Linked DNA regions of Homo sapiens. The protein of the gene in region 2 interacts with the protein of the main gene of each other region in a pairwise test. Each region holds a gene or a part of one and is shown on either strand. Other genes may lie near its edges. The genes, in order: KIFAP3, CCSER2, CRADD and OFD1.

Region 1 (4,352 bases), on a different chromosome or scaffold from region 2:
TTCATTCTGTTTTCTTTCTGTGCCTCAAAATGGACAGTTTCATTTGACATATCTTCAAGTTTGCTGATTCTTTTCTCTCTCTGCTCAGATCTGCTGTTAAAAACCCTGTAGTGATTTTTTTATTTCAGTTATTGTACTTTTCAGATCTAGTGTTTTTGTTTGGATCCTTATGATAATATATTTTTAAACTATTTATGTGTTGAGACATTGTGTTTCTCCTTTTTCTTAGTTATTTGCACTGGTTTCTTTTTGCTCTTTGGACATATTTAAGACAGTTGATTTAAAGTCTTTGATAAGTCCAGTGTTTGTGCTGTAGCATGGACAGTTTCTGTTAATTTTTTTTATTGTGAGAATGAGAATGAGTTTCTTGTTTCTTTGCATGTTTCATATTTTGTTTTGTTGAAAACTGGGTATTTTGAATATTATGGTATCCAAAGGAAAAAAAGAAAAGAAAAAAATACTCTTCAGATCTTTGTAGGTTGACTCAGTGTTTGGATATGGCTTCAACACTTAGCCAGGCAATTTACAATTTTACCTTAGCCTTCATTTGCTGCTTGCACAGAGCCTGAAGACCAGCCAGAGGTAAAAGCTTATGATCTTCCCAGGTTTTTTCTGGGTATGTATTCTGCCCTGAGCATGCTCATGGATTTCTAGATTTCTCTTTATATGCAATAGCTTTTCAAAGCATCTATTCCCCCAAAATGTCTGACTCCCTGGACTTTCCTCTTGGGCTTTCAGCTTGTGTTTTGTTTGACCCAGCTATTACTATTTATCCCAGGGGCCAGCAGCTTGTATGCTTGGCTTTCACTGATTTCAGTGACTGCATAGCTGCACTATCCTGATAAGAGTTTAAAATTAGTCAAAACAAAGGAAAGCCCCTTGCAGCTGACCTCAAAGGAAACTTCAGTCAGTTGCAAAACAATCAGACAAAATTCCTTGGGAGCAAGGTCCACTTGACTCCTCTAGAACCAAGTATTAACAGTGGGAACGTGGGCTGCCATCTTGAAGACTGCCACTGTGCTTGAGAGTGGGGTGGATGTCTAGGGTAAGTGAAAAGACCATAATGATCGCCTACCTTGTTTCTGTAACCTTTCTTCTGATTAAACATTCACTTGGTTGCTGTAAACCTTTGACTGTCTTCCAGAGTTCTGATGAGGTTGATTGTGATAGGTTTTTTTTGCCAAGTTTTTAGTGCTTCTGGGGAGTGCCAGCCTCTAGAGGTCCCTACTCTGCCGTTTTCACTGATGTCACTTAGCCATTATCTTTTCATATATTGCTCTGTACCCATTCTCTCTCACCTTTTTTCTGGGACTTCAAGTACATATGCTAGACCTACTCAGTATGCATTGCTGAATTATACTTTTGCTTGTGTTTTACATCTTTTTGTCTCTATGTTTTATTCTGGGTGTTTTCTTCTGACTTATATTTTATGCCATAAATTATCTCCTTACCCGTATCTAATCTGCTATTAAACCTATTTATTTATTATTATTCTTAATTTTGGTTATTGTATTTTTAATTCTAGAAATTTAAAAAAATTATCTAGTTTTTTCTGAAGATGACTATTCTTTGAGTATCATATATAGGAATATAAATGTATAAATAATCATTTGAGGCTCAGGATGATGTTCTCTTTTTCCAGAGAAGATTATATTTTATTTATGTTAGTAAGGATTACTGAAAATTTAGGGTCACCTTAATTAGTTCTCAGAGATTCAATTACATTAAACTGGGCTTTTTAGTCTTGTTGGTGACCGATCTGCATCTGTTTCACAGTTACTCCTAGGAGGTAGTCCTCCTGTTTCAAGCTTAAAGCTTGGAGCTTTACCAGAGCCACTGTTGTTTGGTGCACTCTAGAATCCAGTTTTTGTGTCTCTAGCCTCATGTGATTATTAAAAGATTCTCAACCTCTCAGCCCTCTCTTTTCAGTTAGCAGATACCTCTAGGGAAAAGTAGCCTCAAATTCAAGATTTACCTCTCTTCATTTTCTTTTTCTCCTGGATCTTGGCACTGTAATTTTTTGTGCCTTTTTAGTTCTCTTATGGCCTCAAACAGATACACACATACGTGTTTTTGCCCCCAGCTTTTAAGATTTTCTTAGAAGGTGCATTGGTTTGAATTACCTTAATCCTCTGTTTCTCTATTACCAAGTCTAATGTTAGTAATAGAAATATAAAACTTGTTTTGGTTTTACCAATATGAAAAGCATCAGGAATTATAAATATTTGAGTACATATAAGAGATTATTTCCCTCTTAATTTTTTAAAAATACATATGACTTGAAAGCAAAAATTATGAAATTTTTGTGTGAGTTTATAAGGTATGTACACATAATGCATATGACAGCTATAACATAAAGAATGGGGGGGGGGGTGTAGGCAATAGACCTGCAATTTGTGAAGTAGCACAGCATTAATTCTTAAATACCTTGTGAAAAAAAAAAGGTAACTAAAACATTGTTTTTCCTAAAGCAACCACCAAAAACAGTTTTTAAAAGTATAGTGAAAACATCTACACAAAATGGAATTTAAAAAATAATAATTCACAAGGCTGTTAGGAAAATAATCAAAGTATAGTTGGGCCAAACAGGAAATAAAAATGAAGTGATAGATCTGAATCTAAGTATGTCAGTCATTGCATTAAATGATCCAAAACAATAATGTCCAATAGAACTTTCTTCCCTGATGGAAATGACTTACAGCTGCATCATCAAATACATAGCCACTGGCTGTATGGCTAATGAACACTTTGAACGTGGTTAGTACAGCTAAGGAATTGCATTTTTAATTATTTTTAAAATGTAATGTATTTAAATTTAATTTTAAATAGACCCATGTAGCTAGTGACTATTGTATCAGACAGCATAGGTTTTAATGTTCCAATGGAAAGGCAGAGATTACCAATATTTCTTTTTTTTTTTTTTTTTTTTTTTTTTGAGGTGGAGTCTTGCTCTGTCGCCCAGGCTGGAGGGCAGTGGCATGATCTTGGCTCACTGCAAGCTCCGCCTCCCGGGTTCACGCCATTCTCCTGCCTCAGCCTCCCAAGTAGCTGGGACTACAGGTGCCCGCCACCATGCCCAGCTAATTTTTTGTATTTTTTAGTAGAGACAGGGTTTCACCATGTTAGCCAGGATGGTCTCGATCTCCTGACCTCATGATCCACCCACCTCGGCTTCCCAAAATGCTGGGATTACAGGCGTGAGCCACTGCGCCCGGCCACCAATATTTCTTTTATAAAGAAAAAAGAAAAGCAAGACCCAACTATCTGTCATCCCCAAAAAATATACTTTTAAGTATGGACATGGTAAGTTAATGGTAAATGGGTGCAATCAAACAGTAAGCATAAGAATGCTAAAATGACCATATTAATGTCAGATAAAATAGGCTTTAAGAAAACGTATACTGTAAAAACTACAGAGGAGTATTTCATACTGATAAAATCTGCTACATCCAGACAGTTTTAAAGTCAAATTCTAACAAAATTTTTGGGAAACAGATGCTTCCAATTATGTACAACTCTTCCAAGAAGTCTAGAAAAAAAAGGATACTCCTCAACTAATTTATATTAAGATTTTAGAATAATCTCCATATGAAAGTCAGAAAAAGGACATTAGAAAGGAAAATTGCAGGCTGAATGAGCAAGGATGCAAATTTAATCTAACAGTGCTTTAAGACAGCATTAACAAGTTGTGCTTATTCTAAGAATATGAGTATGGTTTTATGTATTTAATGAATTTGATGTAGTATATTTATGAATTAAAGAAGAACAATACATGATCCTCCAATGGATGCAGAAAAACATTTGATGACATTCACTACACATTCATGATTTAAGGAAAAAACTAAAGCCATAAATAAAAGGGAATTATGATATAAACATATTAAATGAGGAAACTAGCCAGGTGTGTTGGCTCATGCCTGTCATCCCAGCACTTTGGGAGGCTGAGGCTGGTGGATCGCTTGAGCCCAGGAGTTCAAGACTAGCCTGGGCAATATGTTGAAACCCCATCTCTATAAAAAATACAAAACTTAGCTGGGCATGGTGGTGCATGCCTGTAGTCCCAGCTACTTGGAAGGTGGAGGTGGGAGGATTGCCTGAGCCTGGGAGGCAAGGCTGCAGTGAGCTGTGATCACACCACTGCACTTCAGCCTAGGTGACAAGAGTGAGACCCTTTCTCAAAAAATAAAGTAACATCAGTAAATGAGGAAACTTTAGAAACATTTCCCTTAACATTAAGGATGATCCAAGGATACCTATGTAACCACCTCAACATTTCACCAGGAGTCCTAAACAGGTAGTAAGATAAGAAATAGAAAAGGTATAAAGATAGGAAGAGAAGAAATGAAACTGAT
Region 2 (4,993 bases):
GTCTCTATGTTGCCCAGGCTGATCTTGAACTCCTAGGCTCAAGTGATCCTCCCGCCTCAGCCTCTCAAAGTGTTGAGGTTACAGTCGTGAGCCACCACAACTGGCCTGGGCATTTTATTTTATTTTATTTTATTTTTGAGATGGAGTCTCACTCTGCCGCCCAGGCTGGAGTGCAGTGGCATGATCTCATCTCACCGCAACCTCCACCTCCCAGGTTCAAGCAATTCTCCTGCGTCAGCCTCCTAAGTAGCTGGGATTACAGGAATGCGCCACCACGCCCGGCTAATTTGTTGGTATTTTTAGTAGAGACGGGATTTCACCATATTGGCCAGCCTGGTCTTGAACTCCTGACCTTGTGATCCTCCCACCTTGGCCTCCCAAAGTGCTGGGGTTACAGGCTTGAGCCATCGCCTCCGGCCTGGTGTTTGCTTTTCTAATCTCACTTAATCCAAAGAGAGATTGCACAGCATTTAGACCTAGTCTTTGTCAATATTTTAAGCACACATTATTGTCCAATACATTAAATATCTTAGGGATTGATATTTAAAAGACATTATTTTCTAAATATGAAAGTGTATTATTAAATGAAGTGTGGTTATACAAATCAGGCATTCCGTCTGCTTTTTCCATTTGAGTATCATTGATCTGGAGACAGGAAAGAACTGGATATTTTTCAAGCAGTTCTCCTGAAATGTTATTACAACCGAGCTGTTGGGGCCGACGAGGATTTCAGAGAACTGCAAGTCTACAACCAGGTAAGGGCAACTCCAGAGCTTTAAACAGCCGGCCAGGCCCGGAAGCCTTCCAGGCTGAGGACTCTCAGCAGCAGGACTGGCCGCGTCGAGGAAAAACAAGAGGGGAAGAGATGGCCTCTGGGGGATGGAAGCCCCAAAGGGAAGAAAGACCTGGTTTCTGGCAAAGAAACCACATTGGCCAGGAGCTGTGGCTCACGCCTGTAATCCCAACACTTTGGGAGGCCAAGGTGGGAGGATTGCTTGAGCCCAGGAGTTTGAGACTAGCCTGTAAGACCACTTCCCCCAACTCTAAAAAGAAAAAATAAAAATTAGCCGGGTATTTGGGTCAACTTGTGATAGTTTACTTTGACTAGTGTGGTCTTAGTTGTAATTATTTCGGAGGCTTGGTGATACACGCCTGAGGCGAGAGGATCGCTTAAGCCCAGGAGGCTGCAAGTGAGCTGTGATAGCGCCACCGAACTCCAACCTGGGTGACAGGGCGAGACTCTGTTTCAAAAAAAAAAAAAAAAAGGGAAAACCAGATCAGCACTTGGGGTGCCCCTTCCCCTCAGCTTTAGCAAGATCCTGTGTTTTGATGCGGTAGGCAGGTGCGTGGTTCAGTCATGCCCAATGCTCAGACCACTCCTCACTTTTCACATCCAGGAGGAGGAGCTGTCAGGTTTGACCGCACTCAAGCAGCAAATGTAGTCCAGGGGACGGCTAGAGGTGAGGTCAGCCGCAAGACTGGCGTCACTGCGTGGGCCCAGCAAAAACCTGAGTCAGGAGGCGGCCAGGCAAGGTCAGTGGAGGGGGCGGGGCCCGAAGCGGAGGCGGAGCTTGGGAAAGCCTGGCGTGAGGGCGGGGCGGGGCCAGAGGTGGGCTGAGGCCGGATCAGGCGGTGGGGGCGGTCCCCGTAGCCCCGTGAGGCTCGCGCCTGCGCACGGGCCCGCGGCGGGGCGGGACTGCGCGTGCGCGGTGCGCCGGCCCTGGAGGGCGGAGTCCGGGCGGGCGCCGGCCGAGGGAGGGGGCGCGGCGGCTTTGGAGTCCGGCGCTCCCTCAGGCCGCGGACGCGATGCTGGTTGCTGCGGCTCGGGCGGCGGGGCTGGCGGGGATGTGACGGGCGGCCCTTCGTCTCACCTTCCGTCCTCGGGCCCGCAGGTCGCAGGGCGGCCTGCAGCTGGGCCGCGGCCGAGGAGGCAGCGCGACCTCCGCACGGTGAGATCCGGGCTCAGGGCCAGAGCCGGGGCCGGGGTCGCGGCGGGCGCCGGGGGCAGCCCAAGACCAGGCACGCAGTCCGGGGCGGGGCGGAGGCCCGAACTCCCGGGCTGAGGCGGTGTCGCCCTCCCGTACCCGGCCTCCAGGGTGAGCCTCTCTAGCCCCTCGCGAGCCGCCGGACGCGGGGCGGGCGCGGACCCGGGAGGCCGGAGGGCGCCCTCCCTGCGGCTGTGACAGCGCGGGGCCTCGGGCCGCGGGCGCCGCCGCCTTTCAGGAGAAATCAGGGCGAGGCTGAGGCACTCTGATTTCGGAGCCTGGTTGCGTGTGAGGGTGGATAGGGAAAGTACCGGGGCTCCCCGAATGAGTTCGATTTTTTTTTTCTTTCAATTACTGGGCTAAATGAAAGACACACCCTAAAACACATCCTGAGGTGAAACTTTGGTGGGGCACACCGTTGCCGTAGGTTCAGATCTTCTCTCTTGTCTTTAGACATGTATTTTCATACATTTTTAAATAATGCACCTACTTTCTTGATAAAGTAAAAGGAGGAATGAAGGGACTCCTTTGTGGTGGTCCTTGGTGGCGAAGCTTGTTTCCATTTCAGTAATTGCATATTCATCTGTGTGGGCTCCCCGACCAATGAGGCTGGCTGCTCCCAGACAAGGCCTTAGCGGAGTGGAAATGACTGACGCAGGGACTCTGGTCTCAGATTAGAGTGTTGGTAGCTCACTCCTGTAAGAGAGAAATTGAGCTTTAAGCTTTTTAAAATAGCCATATGAAAAGCATTCCTTTTCTCCTGAGCATTAAAATATGACGGAACCTATTCATTTGGCCAGTTGTTTTTTTTAAAGCATCATCTTTTAGACTAGAGACTTTAGAGATGGCAGCTGCTCTTTAACCAAAAGGAACTTAAGATGCTCTCCTGCAAAAGATGGGTTCAAAACATGTCTTATCCGTCATCCATATGTGATAAAAATGTAAATATTCCTGAGTGTTTGCCTGAAATCAGTCTTCTTCCTCTTGGACTTTATTACTGTTTCTCTTAATTTATGAAAGCTTGTTACTGTTATTTTTTGTTTTCGTTTGTGTTCTAAACAACATTGGCTTCAAATAATCTTCAGGTTAAAAATGCACACTTTGTTGAACCCTTTAGCCATAATTCATACTGTCGTACTTCAGCATAAGCCATAGTTAAGAAAGCACTAGAAGCCATCCTGAAAGCAAGCCGAAAGTCTCTATTAAGAATTCTGTAAAAATTCTACCTTTCCACATTCAGACCTGCATTTTTTGTTGCTTTGACTCAACTCCTTTGACTATTTTGGAGGAAGGGACTTTGAATCCATATTTACAAGTCCTTCAGTGACTCTCCATAGTCTATATCGATAAAATTCAAAGTCCTTCATGATTAGCGGTATTTGTCTCCATTCTAGTGTCATCTTCTACCATTATGCCTGCCCTCTCTATATAAGACTGTTGCAGTTCTCTGAAGATGACATCTTCCTCTGTGGTTTTTCAGTGTTCTTTGTTGAGAATTCTCTACCTAGTAAACAACTTGCCCTTGAAGACCTTACGAAAGTAGCACTTCTGAGGCTTGTCTAGACATTTCATCCCTCTTGTCTTAACTGATTCGTACACTCTCCAGTTAGTATTTGTCAACTGGTAGTTAATGATTTGTTTATGTGTCTGTCTCCACCAGGTTTTGGGGTTTCTTTTGTGTTTTTTGAGACAGAGTCTTGCACTGTGGCCTGGGCTGGAGTGCAATGGCCTCATCTCGGCTCACTGCAACTTCTGCTTCCTGGGTTCATGCGATTCTCTTGCCTCAGCCTCCTGAGTAGCTGGAATTATAGGCACACACCACCACACCTGGCTAATTTTTTTTTAGTAGAGACGGGTTTCAGTATGTTGGCCAGACTGGTCTCAAACTCCTGACCTCGTGATCCGCCCACCTCGGCCTCCCAAAGTGCTGGGATTGTAGGCTGGTTAGGAATGAAACCCCAGTTATGTTAAAAAAAATCCATTTTATGATACAGGAATAAAAAGGGCATGACCAATAAAGATTGCTGCTTCATTGGTCCTACAACTTTATTTTGAGGCGCAAAGTCACGCAGGTAGAAAGGGATGGCGGGGATTACAGTCCAGGTCTTTTGACCATCTGTGTATTTCACTTTTGCCCCCAGTCTCCTAATTCTAAATCTTAATTGTTTTACAATTTGAATGGGAGTTGTGAGCGACTTGGATGTGTTCTGAAAAAAGGGTCAATAGAATATTGAACTTGAAAGAATTAACAGATTATTTGGTTCAACTTTAAAAATTTTACGGTTAAACAACTCAGCCTAAAAAGACAACTTGTTTGAGATTGCTTAGGCTCACCTACATCTCATATCTCCTGACCTCATCATTGTGTGTTTTTCACTACTCCATGGTGCTTTGGGGTGAAATGAAGGAGCTGCCAGTTTTTCAGAGGGAGTGCAAATCTGCTTGCACTTTCTCCCTCTTTGAATACATGGCTGCCACTCCTAGGGACTTAGAACCCTTGTGGCTGAGAAACATGATAATTCATTTGGGGATATGGGAGAAACCTAACCTTCACTATTCCTCTCAGCCAGATAGTTTTAACTTCAGTGCTTGGGGCGCTCTCTCCAGATGCCCCATAACAAGTGGCTTCTGATCACCATATGGACATCTCACATACAGTTAAGTTTTGATGGTACAATGAGATTTTAATATAAGAAGGTTGCAGCTGGCTAATAGCATGGCTAAAATTACTTGTGTGGCTTGTCTGTGAGAGGAGCCTATCTTACTCCTATGTGATAGGATTTTGGGGGAAAAAATTGATGATTGTGGCTGTCTCTAAAAAGTTGAAATGTGTACTTAGTGGTGTGGGCCTGACCAATTCCAAAAGGCTTTTTATCTTACAAACAATGGTCAAAGAAATTTTAAAAATCAAAACAAACTTAATTTTTCTTCTTATTTCTTGTCATATCAGTGGTTTTATATGATAAAGCATACACATAATGCTTAATATTTGCTTTCATATTTGATGT
Region 3 (4,352 bases), on a different chromosome or scaffold from region 2:
ACTGATCTGGAGATCCTCCATTTGTCTTTATATACCCAGTACCTGGCATTCAGTAGGTCCTTAGGAAGTATATGAAAATCGGGCTGGGTATACACAGAAACCTGGGCCCTCTGCAGACTCTCCCTTTACCGAGGGAAGGGTCTTGCTATGGATACTGACCCACTGTTCTCACTCTAGCACACAGGACGCCACTAGGCAAACACTACTCAGTCACAGTGGAAGCACATGGATAGACTGCAAGCTAGATACACTGAGACCAACACTGAACTTACATGCAGAGCAAGGTCAATTACGTGGTATGATTGGAGGAACCTATGAAAAGAATCCCAAGCTAGAAACCTCTCTAATAAACCCATCACAATATCTAAAATATCTGCCATTAAGAGCTCAGTGACTTTAGATGCATCCAAGTATGCAACTCAGAGCTAGAATGTATCTCAGGAGGGCGGCAGGTGTGGTTCTGTGTTGTCACTCAAGGCTGGCGCCACAAGGGGCAGGCAGAGCCCTTGAGCCCACAGGTAGAGGGGAAATGGACTAGCCAGTCCTGCGCACTGCTGTTGTAAGAGCAGCCAGGGAGTCCAGGGCACAGAGTCTATGGGGAGGACAAGATCAAGCCCAGAGAAGGTTGAAGCAAGTGTCAGCTTAGGGACAGCCATTCCAACAGGCTCAAGAGTTGAGACATCCAATGCTGATGCCGGAGGCACCGAGCTGTGTTCCCAGAGCTCTGTTCTTCACTCTCGCCATGGCTAAGAATACATAAAGCATGAATCAAACCAACGGAGGAGAGAAAAACAAAAACACTCCCAAGCTTAAAGGAAGACTGGGGCAAAAGGCAGAGAATCATGGCAGACACCCAGACCCACAGCCAGGGCCAACACAGTGGAACAGGGAGGGGGTCCTGTGGCCCAGGAGTCACTCCCACCGTGATTTACGCTGAGTCCCACCAGATGGGGAGGCTGGGCTGCCATCAACCTCCTTTCCAGATCCAGATTAGCTCAGGCACTGGAGGGAGCCTGTCAGTGCCGACAGGCCCCATGAGCAGTGAGAAGCCAGGCAGGCAGGCACAGGCTGCCTTCACCCAGACACGGCACTGTCCCTATCTCCTAAATGACCTGACAGGAGCCCAGAGAGGATTTCCAGCTGATCTAATGTCTAGTATGTGACCTTGGCCAGAGAGACAAACCATGAAGTGTTCTCTCCACGGTGCCAAGGTGGATTAAGTCATTTTATCACCAGAATTCCTCTTTTAAAAGGTAAGAGTCCTTACAGGGTGAGAAAAACACAAAACCAATGATCCATTAACAACTTTAACAACTTAAACCTTTTTTTTTTTCCTAACAGAGATTGGGAGACTAGTCACAGAGGCAGATTCTGAGAGAATCAAAAGGTTTAGGGTGTTTTTGTATGTTTTGAGATTTGATGGGGGTGGCGTTCAGAAGAGTAGAGAAGAACAAGATACAGCTCAATTCTCTAAACAAATTACATCCAGCACATAAGTAAAAAGCAACTAACCAGGAACAATCACCAAAATAAAGCCTCTGAGACAGCTCAAAATTTACAAGTGAAACAACGAAAATTAAAACAACAAACCAATAAAGGGGAAACCAAGCATCTCTGGGAAGACCAACACAAGAAAACCTTAATAAGATAAAATCAGTTCATTCTTAGAGAAGGATCAACGTCTTGGCTAAAAAAGAAGGCCATTCCTTCCCATTTGTTCTCAAGGCCTCCCAAGAGACTACTGAATCCATACAAATTAATTAATAAGTATGATCAAAATGAGGAAAAGGTAGGAAGAGTTTAATGTGTACATACATTAAGAGGTTAATGTGTACACACATTCTCCTATAGTCTAGATCCTCAAAACTCAAAGATATCTTTACAAAAATTTAAGTGGACTATTTTAAATCTTACTAAAATTACTCAATTACAACACTGGAGAAGCACCGAGGTCTTAGGCAGTAGGTTCTGGATTTCTTTTTTATAGGGACGTTAAATTGAAGGGATTTCAACTCTGATACTCTTCCCAGGATTTACAAAATAACAAAACCTAGGTTTCCAATTCAGTAAATCCCAATTTAATTTTAGAATTAAAATATTGCCACCAATTAAATTACTTTAAACATGTAAAAAATATTTTAAGTTCTGAAACAAGAGAAGGTGTTAACTATCAAGTTTAAATGCATAATTTCTTCCATTACTTCCACCCTTTCCTTCCCACACACACAAAAAACATATATATCTCTCTCTATATACATATATACATATACACACACACACACCTCTAGAACTTACGGTATACAGGATTTTCAAAAACATATGAAGATTTTAAAAGTGATTTTTAGGAGATAGGAAACTATAAAGTGAAGAAGTGAATGAATGATAAACCCCCAATTCAGGGCTTTTCACTGCGTGGGGGTTGGGAATGAGACAAGATTGGGAAGGAGTGCCCGGGGTTTTTAAAGGCAATCGTAATATTATTTTTCTTAAACTGAGTGATGAGGAGACGGGTGTTCGCTGTACCATTATTCTCCATATCTTACTTATATTTTGTAATATTATTTAAAATAGTCAATATTTAATAAATACAAGTCTTTTTTAAAAGAGTTTATGTGATTGTCACCGTGGAAGGTATTCAAAGACATATATAAATCAAACCCTCACTTCAGAATGTTTTTTTCAATAGCAGTGTTACTCAGTAAAAAGTAAAACAATTAAGATGACTGTACGAATTTGTTCCAGAGCCAACCTTCTACAGAATTAACAAATCTTGAGAAAAACCTTATTTTTCTAAACTTCTACACAGATATGCTCAATTTTTTTCCCATTATGTACTGCTTCATTCTGTTTGCTTTTTTAAAAAGCTATTTTTCCTCAGCTTCTCTGTAACTCTCATCATTTTGTAAAAAATGCCTTAATTCTTTCTAACTCTCTGAATGAATCTGAAGAAATAATGGGGTTATGGCCGAGCATGGTGGCTCACGCCTGTAATCCCAGCACTTTGGGAGGCCGAGGTGGGCGGATCACCTGAGGTCGGGAGTTTAAGACCAGCCTGACCAACATGGAGAAACCCCATCTCTACTAAAAATACAAAATTAGCCGAGCATGGTGGCACATGCCTGTAATCCCAGCTACTCGGGAGGCTGAGGCAGAAGAATTGCTTAAACCCGGGAGGCAGAGGTTGCAGAGAGCCGAGATCGCGCCATTGCACTCCAGCCTGGGCAACAAGAGTGAAACTCCGTCTCAAAAAAAAAAAAATGGTATTATACCTCTACGAATGACATACAACAGCATGATCTGTATCACCCAAAATGACCATAAAATTAAATTCAGTATTTTGATAGTGAAAGGCTTTCAGTTCACCTGTTTTGTTGTTTCCAACTATATGATGCCAGCAGAAACCTCTAAGTCAAATATCAGGAAAACACCAATAATTTTTTAACATTTCTCCAACTCTATGTTATCTATTCTGCTTTCAATAAAGTCATAAAAACATCTAGATACATTTTGTTCAGACATGTGGAGTATTTAATTTTGTAAGGACAATCCAAGCAGTGAATTCCAGTGGTCCTCAAAAGCCAGCTATGTCTAATATTTCAAAAAGCCTAAAGATACATTTAACTGTAACGAGCCCAGACTAGGAATGAAAATACTTTTGCTTTTTCCACTGGGATCTTACCAGGTCTTCCTAAAGTTAGCTGGCTATGTCATGCTGATCAGGTATTCAGACATATGTCAAAATATGAGGTCCATGGAGCAAAAATAGTAAAAGTGGTCTTATTATCAGTATTCATTTTTTTTAACCAGTATTTAAAAAATAGCAACCACGAAGTCTGGGGCCCACTGAACCGGAATAGTTCTATCACTCTTATCAGAAACCCCAGAGAACCTTGATTCTCTAACTTTGTTAAAAATTTGCAAGCCAACTTTCAATTACTTTTTTTTTTCAATTTTTAATTTTTGCCAGTTCAGTTCTCTGCCCCTCTATCTTTGTGAAACAGAGTCAAGGGAGGTTAAGAAAAAGCAAGTGTTTCCATATCACATCTTCTTCCTGCTACAAGCCAGGCTAACAGAACCAGAACTGTTTCTCTCTTCTCCAGCTTCCAATTCTCCTTCAAATTAAACTGAGACCCTCCCCAAACTATTGCTCTTTGCAAAATTAAATACTCCAGTGTCTGAACAAAGCTAAACTAAAAAGGACACTTTAAACGAATAACCTTTAAAAACAAACTAAGTCAGCCTTCAAAATAATCCCCTTTGGCCACACAGGACAGCCCAGGGGACAGGTGCAGGGCATGCCTTCCTAGAGGCTGTCTCCTCCTCCATGAATCTGACCTTTTCCAGCTGGTAGC
Region 4 (4,990 bases), on a different chromosome or scaffold from region 2:
CCCTATTGTTCCACCTCTGCTAGCGTTGACTCGTTTACTTATTTTTTCTCCCAAATTCACTTTGACTATATCGAGTTCAGAGCTACTATCATTTCTCTCTTCATGCCTGGAATGTTCTCCTTTATTCTGTCTGCAACCACTACCCATCCTTTAAAATCCAACTAAGCCTCTCCTCCTTTTCCATTGTTTCCAACAAAAACTTACAGGTTCTCCACCTCCTATGAAGTCCTGTCACTCTTACTGCCTCTTAAATACTTTAAGTTTTTCACAGCCAGAGATCAAAACTCATCGTACTCATCTTCAATGCTGTACACAAAGCTGACATCCAATTCTGTCCTCACAGGACTTAGATACCATATAAGGCTTATATTCCCAGCACACAACTCTGGAGTCAGGCTAGATTCCTCACTGCTCCCAAGAAGGTCGTGGCTTTTTTTTTTCTTTTAATGATTCCTTTGCTCATTTTTCCCCTTCCTGTGATGTTCTCCTTTTTGCTCACCACCCGAATCCTACCCATCAAGGCCCCGATAAAGACACACTTTTTCCACAGAGATGATCTGGATCACTTCCATCTTCAACCACCTCCCCTTTAAACTCTTTATCCAGTCTACAATGTATCTTAGTTCTTGTTCAATTCTCTGGCTGTAACATTTTCATTATCGCTTCTGAGAGGTTTGGTTCCTTTCCTTTCTAATTACATTTAAGCATCATGAGGACTGGCTCACCTTTACCTCACAGCACACAATGGTTGGTACTCTAAAACGTTTAGCTCTGTGGATCTCAACCCGGAGCGATCTTGCTTCCAAGAGGACATCTGGCAATATCTGGAGACATCTTTGGTTGTCACACTTGGGGGAGAAGGTGATACTGACAAAATAGAGAGCAAGGATACAGCTAAACCTACAATGCACAGGACAGCCTCCCAAAACAAAGAATCTTCCGGCTCCAAAAGGCAACAGTGCAGCCGTTAAGAAACCCTGGGTTAGCTGAATGACCCAGTGAACCGCGAAACCACAGCCCCCGAGAGGGCGGACGTCTGCAGGTGGAAGGGCTGCGCGGATGAGCCAGCGGAGGGCTGGCAGGTCCGGCCCGGCCACCCCGGGGAGGGGTGGAGGTACAGGACCAACATCCGCGTCACGCAGGGGCTACGAAGTCCTCCAGGGACTCAAAACACCCGCCCCCCGCCGCACTTGCTCCATTCCCTACCTGCAGTGGGAGGCCGACAACGGAAACGCAATGTCAGTTTCCGCGGAAGAGACCCGCGCCCCGAACCTGTAGCCAGAACGCCGAAGCAGTTCTCGCGATACCCTGGGATGTGCTCTCGCGATACGTAGGCGGAGCTTCCGGCCGGTGCTGGGCAACCAAGCTCATGCGCCGTAGCTCTTCAGCTCGGGAAGGCTATATTTAGCAGGTTTCCGGAAGTTGCCGGACTGGCTGTGAGGCGGTCCTGCCTCGCTGCCTTCAGTCCCTAGTGTCTGGGTCCCCGCCCTCCAGCCGCCTTTGAGTCGTGCCTGGGTCCTCGCCCTTGCCTCAGAACCGCGAAGAAAGGAAGCTCGCGTGTTTGCTAGAAAACCTAGTTGGGAGTGCGAGGCAGAGAACGTTCAGCACCTTTGTTCCTCCCGAACCCTCGGGACAGAGGCAGGGTTCTGAGGGCAGGGATTCCCCCTCGTCTTGGCCCCACCGCCCGGGCTGGGCACTAAACTCGGGCCGCGGCGGGGCGAGCGAGGCGGGCTCCGGAGGGAGCTGACGCCTGATGATGGCGCAGGTAGACACACCTGCCCCTTCTCGGGCGGAAATAAAGTCTTGTTTTGTGTTCGTTAAACTTTCGCCGCTAGGCCTCTTATGGCTTCCCCGGAGGCCACTGGTCTGTTTTCAGACGTTCACGTTCCCTCTGCCCCGCAGGTAACCTATAACCATTTTGTCTTTTAGTCCAACATGTTTACCGTGGCTGATGTGTTGAGTCAAGATGAACTGCGCAAAAAGCTATACCAGACGTTTAAGGATCGGGGTATACTGGATACACTCAAGGTATCGGATTTAGGCGTATCTGTGTCAGCTTTTACAAGTGTAACCTGTAACAGGTAGTTCAAATTCAATCAAGGTTTAGGTTTTAATAATCGTATGATACATAGATTGTATTGGTGAATTACATTTTTATATTCCCGAATAACTCTGTATCCTGAAACATTACAGTCTCTTGAAAATGTTTGAGAAAATGTTGAGTTTGAGTCGTCTTAAAGGAGCATATTCAAATAATTAATTGAACTGACAATAAGATAGGAGAAGGAAATATTTGTATAATGAACACAGTAAGATTAGGCTTGTTTTATAAATATGGCTTATAGGTTCCTAAATTAATAAGTGGGTTTGTAATACATTTGGATGAAGGACATTGACACCATATAGAAAATACTAGTGTACTGCTTAATAATAGTTTGGGAAATGAAAAATTTTATCTTTAAACTATATTGAAATGTATGAATGTTTAGTTTGGGCAGAAAATACCTATTAGTATGCTTTATATTTGGATTAACAGCCAGGAGTAGGATTAGCTCAACGTGTTTTCATTGAAATATGCATTTCAAAAGCATATTTTACGTTTAAAATATGTAGCTATATCCTGTGTATGTATCCTTTTTTAATTTAAATTATATGGTGAGCATTTCCCTGTTTCCTTAAAAGTTTTTTGAAATCTTCATTTTCAGTGGCAACAGGCTTATCTTTGGATATTTTTGTAATGTATATAGCAGTCCCCTGTTGTTGAATATTTTGGTTATATTCTCCAACAGTCCACAGAGGTGTGATGAAGTGGCAGAATTTTTTCCTATACTTAATATCCCAATCGTAAGCTGCTGAAATGGGCTTCTAGGGAAGTGAAGTTATGAGTCTGCAAGTGGATCTGGCTAACCACCCGTTTCATTTGGAAGCTGGGGAAAGAAAGCTTTTTCTAGAACCCACTGGACTGCTTGTCTCACGGGGTAAGACAAAGTGTGCAGGGGAAGGTTTCTAACTTCTGGCCATGGATCTAGAACCATTATGGAAATAGAAGGAAGGTTTCCAATGAATGTAGCTCATCTGTGTATATCTCTAATGAAACAGTCCTGCTGAAATTTCTTTCCCTTGTGTTTCTTTTTTATTTTTGTTTTTATTTTATGCTAGACACAACTTCGAAACCAGCTAATTCATGAGTTGATGCACCCTGTATTGAGTGGAGAACTGCAGCCTCGGTCCATTTCAGTAGAAGGGAGCTCCCTCTTAATAGGCGCCTCTAACTCTTTAGTGGCAGATCACTTACAAAGATGTGGCTATGAATATTCACTTTCTGTTTTCTTTCCAGAAAGTGGTTTGGCAAAAGAAAAGGTAAAGTCTTTCCTTTTCTGTTTCTGAAGTTTTTATTAACAGGTTCTTCCTCTGCTGACAGTAAAGTGCTGTATGATAGCTAAGTGCTCCTCGACTAGGTCCATTTCTGTTTCCTCTTTGAATTCACATTGTACCTGCACATAATATATTTGTTATATAACAAGTGGGTACTAAATTTGAAATTAATTTCTTGGCGTCTCATTTAGTCTCACATAAAACAGTGATGTATAGAATCTCTAAATGTTTCAGACCTATAATTGATCTATCTATCCTCTATCTTGTCTAATAAGACTCTGCCAATCTGCTGAATGTCTGCTGTAAGCTTGGCACTGTGATAGGCACACTGCAGATGTTTTGTGTGTTACGGATGAGGAACCAGACTCTGGAGAGGTGAATCAATTTGCCCAACATCAAGTAACTTTTAAGTGACAATGCAGGGTGGTAAATCTAGATCTCTAACATGAGCTCTTTTTTTCCTGCACTAGTTTCTTCAGATGTTTCTCTTTGTAATTAGATAAGTGAGAAATACGTAATTTAAAAAATCTGTAAAGTTCTCAAATATTAAAAACACTTGTTTTTTTTTTTTACTACTTTTCTAATTATTTTAACTATATTTCTTCACCATTACTGTTGAACATTAGTACTACTTTATTATTTTAAAGGCAGATACAGCAGACTTTCCCTGTGGATATGTGCGTGTTTTTTTTTTTTTAATAGACTTTATTTTTTCAGAGCAGTTTTGGGTTCACAGCAAAGTTAAGTGGGAAGTACAGAGAATTCCCATATACCTGCTGCCCCTACACACTCATAGCCTCCCCCACTGTCAACATCTTGCATCAAGGTGGTACATTTGCTACAATCTATAAGCCTACCCTGACATGTCATTATCACCCAGAGGCCATAGTTTACAGTGAAGGTTGCAGTGAGCCGAGATCATGCCACTGCACTCCAGCCTGGGTGACAGAGCGAGACTGTCTCAAAAATAAAATAAATTTCACTCTTGGTGGTGTTCATATGTTTTTACTTTCTTTGTGTTTTCTGTAATTATCCAAAAGTTTCATATTCCAAAGTTTTAGTGACACAAGCTTAGTACAGTATTTGAATGAAAACTTAAATAATTTGCATTTCTTCATAAGCAACCAAATTTTATTTGTCAGCATTAGGAATTTATTTATTAATTTATGTTTTTGAGACAGAGTCTTGCTCTGTTACCCAGTCTGGAGTGCAATGGCGCAGTCTTGGCTCACTGCAACCTCTGCCTCCTGTGTTCAAGCAATTCTCCTGCCTCAGCCTCCCAAGTAGCTGGGATTACAGGTGCCCACCACTACACCTGGCTAACTTTTTTATTTTTAGTAGAGAGGAGGTTTCACCATGTTGGCCAGGCTGGTCTCGAATCCTGACCCCAGGTGATCTGCCCACCTCAATCTCCCAAAGAGCTGGGATAACAAGCATGAGCCCTCGTGTCTGGCCTGGAATTCATTTTTGATACATCATTCTCTAACTTTCTAATCACTTTATACTTTTACTTATTGTGTAATAGTCAATAATACAATTATATAGCAGGAATTAATCCTATTCATACAACTTAACGGTTTCTACTAATGTAAAATGCCCATGCAGAATATTTACT

What was found.
Region 1: the proteins of CCSER2 (region 2) and KIFAP3 interact in a two-hybrid assay, tested with the Homo sapiens proteins (one large-scale study listed by BioGRID).
Region 3: the proteins of CCSER2 (region 2) and CRADD interact in a two-hybrid assay, tested with the Homo sapiens proteins (one large-scale study listed by BioGRID and IntAct).
Region 4: the proteins of CCSER2 (region 2) and OFD1 interact in a two-hybrid assay, tested with the Homo sapiens proteins (one large-scale study listed by BioGRID and IntAct).

What each region holds. Positions count from the first base shown.
Region 1 is NC_000001.11:170,064,197-170,068,548, reverse strand, and holds part of KIFAP3 (kinesin-associated protein 3), read left to right. Parts: exon of another isoform or gene 1-1,045; intron 1,046-4,352. UniProt on the Homo sapiens protein: Involved in tethering the chromosomes to the spindle pole and in chromosome movement. Binds to the tail domain of the KIF3A/KIF3B heterodimer to form a heterotrimeric KIF3 complex and may regulate the membrane binding of this complex.
Region 2 is NC_000010.11:84,326,860-84,331,852, forward strand, and holds the start of CCSER2 (serine-rich coiled-coil domain-containing protein 2), read left to right. Parts: upstream 1-1,729; 5' UTR 1,730-1,949; intron 1,950-4,993. UniProt on the Homo sapiens protein: Microtubule-binding protein which might play a role in microtubule bundling.
Region 3 is NC_000012.12:93,679,795-93,684,146, reverse strand, and holds part of CRADD (death domain-containing protein CRADD), read right to left. Parts: intron 1-4,352. UniProt on the Homo sapiens protein: Adapter protein that associates with PIDD1 and the caspase CASP2 to form the PIDDosome, a complex that activates CASP2 and triggers apoptosis.
Region 4 is NC_000023.11:13,733,319-13,738,308, forward strand, and holds the start of OFD1 (centriole and centriolar satellite protein OFD1), read left to right. Parts: upstream 1-1,429; 5' UTR 1,430-1,753; coding exon 1,754-1,765; intron 1,766-1,929; coding exon 1,930-2,028; intron 2,029-3,159; coding exon 3,160-3,360; intron 3,361-4,990. Other genes in the region: TRAPPC2 (trafficking protein particle complex subunit 2), read right to left, coding at 732-814. UniProt on the Homo sapiens protein: Component of the centrioles controlling mother and daughter centrioles length. Recruits to the centriole IFT88 and centriole distal appendage-specific proteins including CEP164. Involved in the biogenesis of the cilium, a centriole-associated function.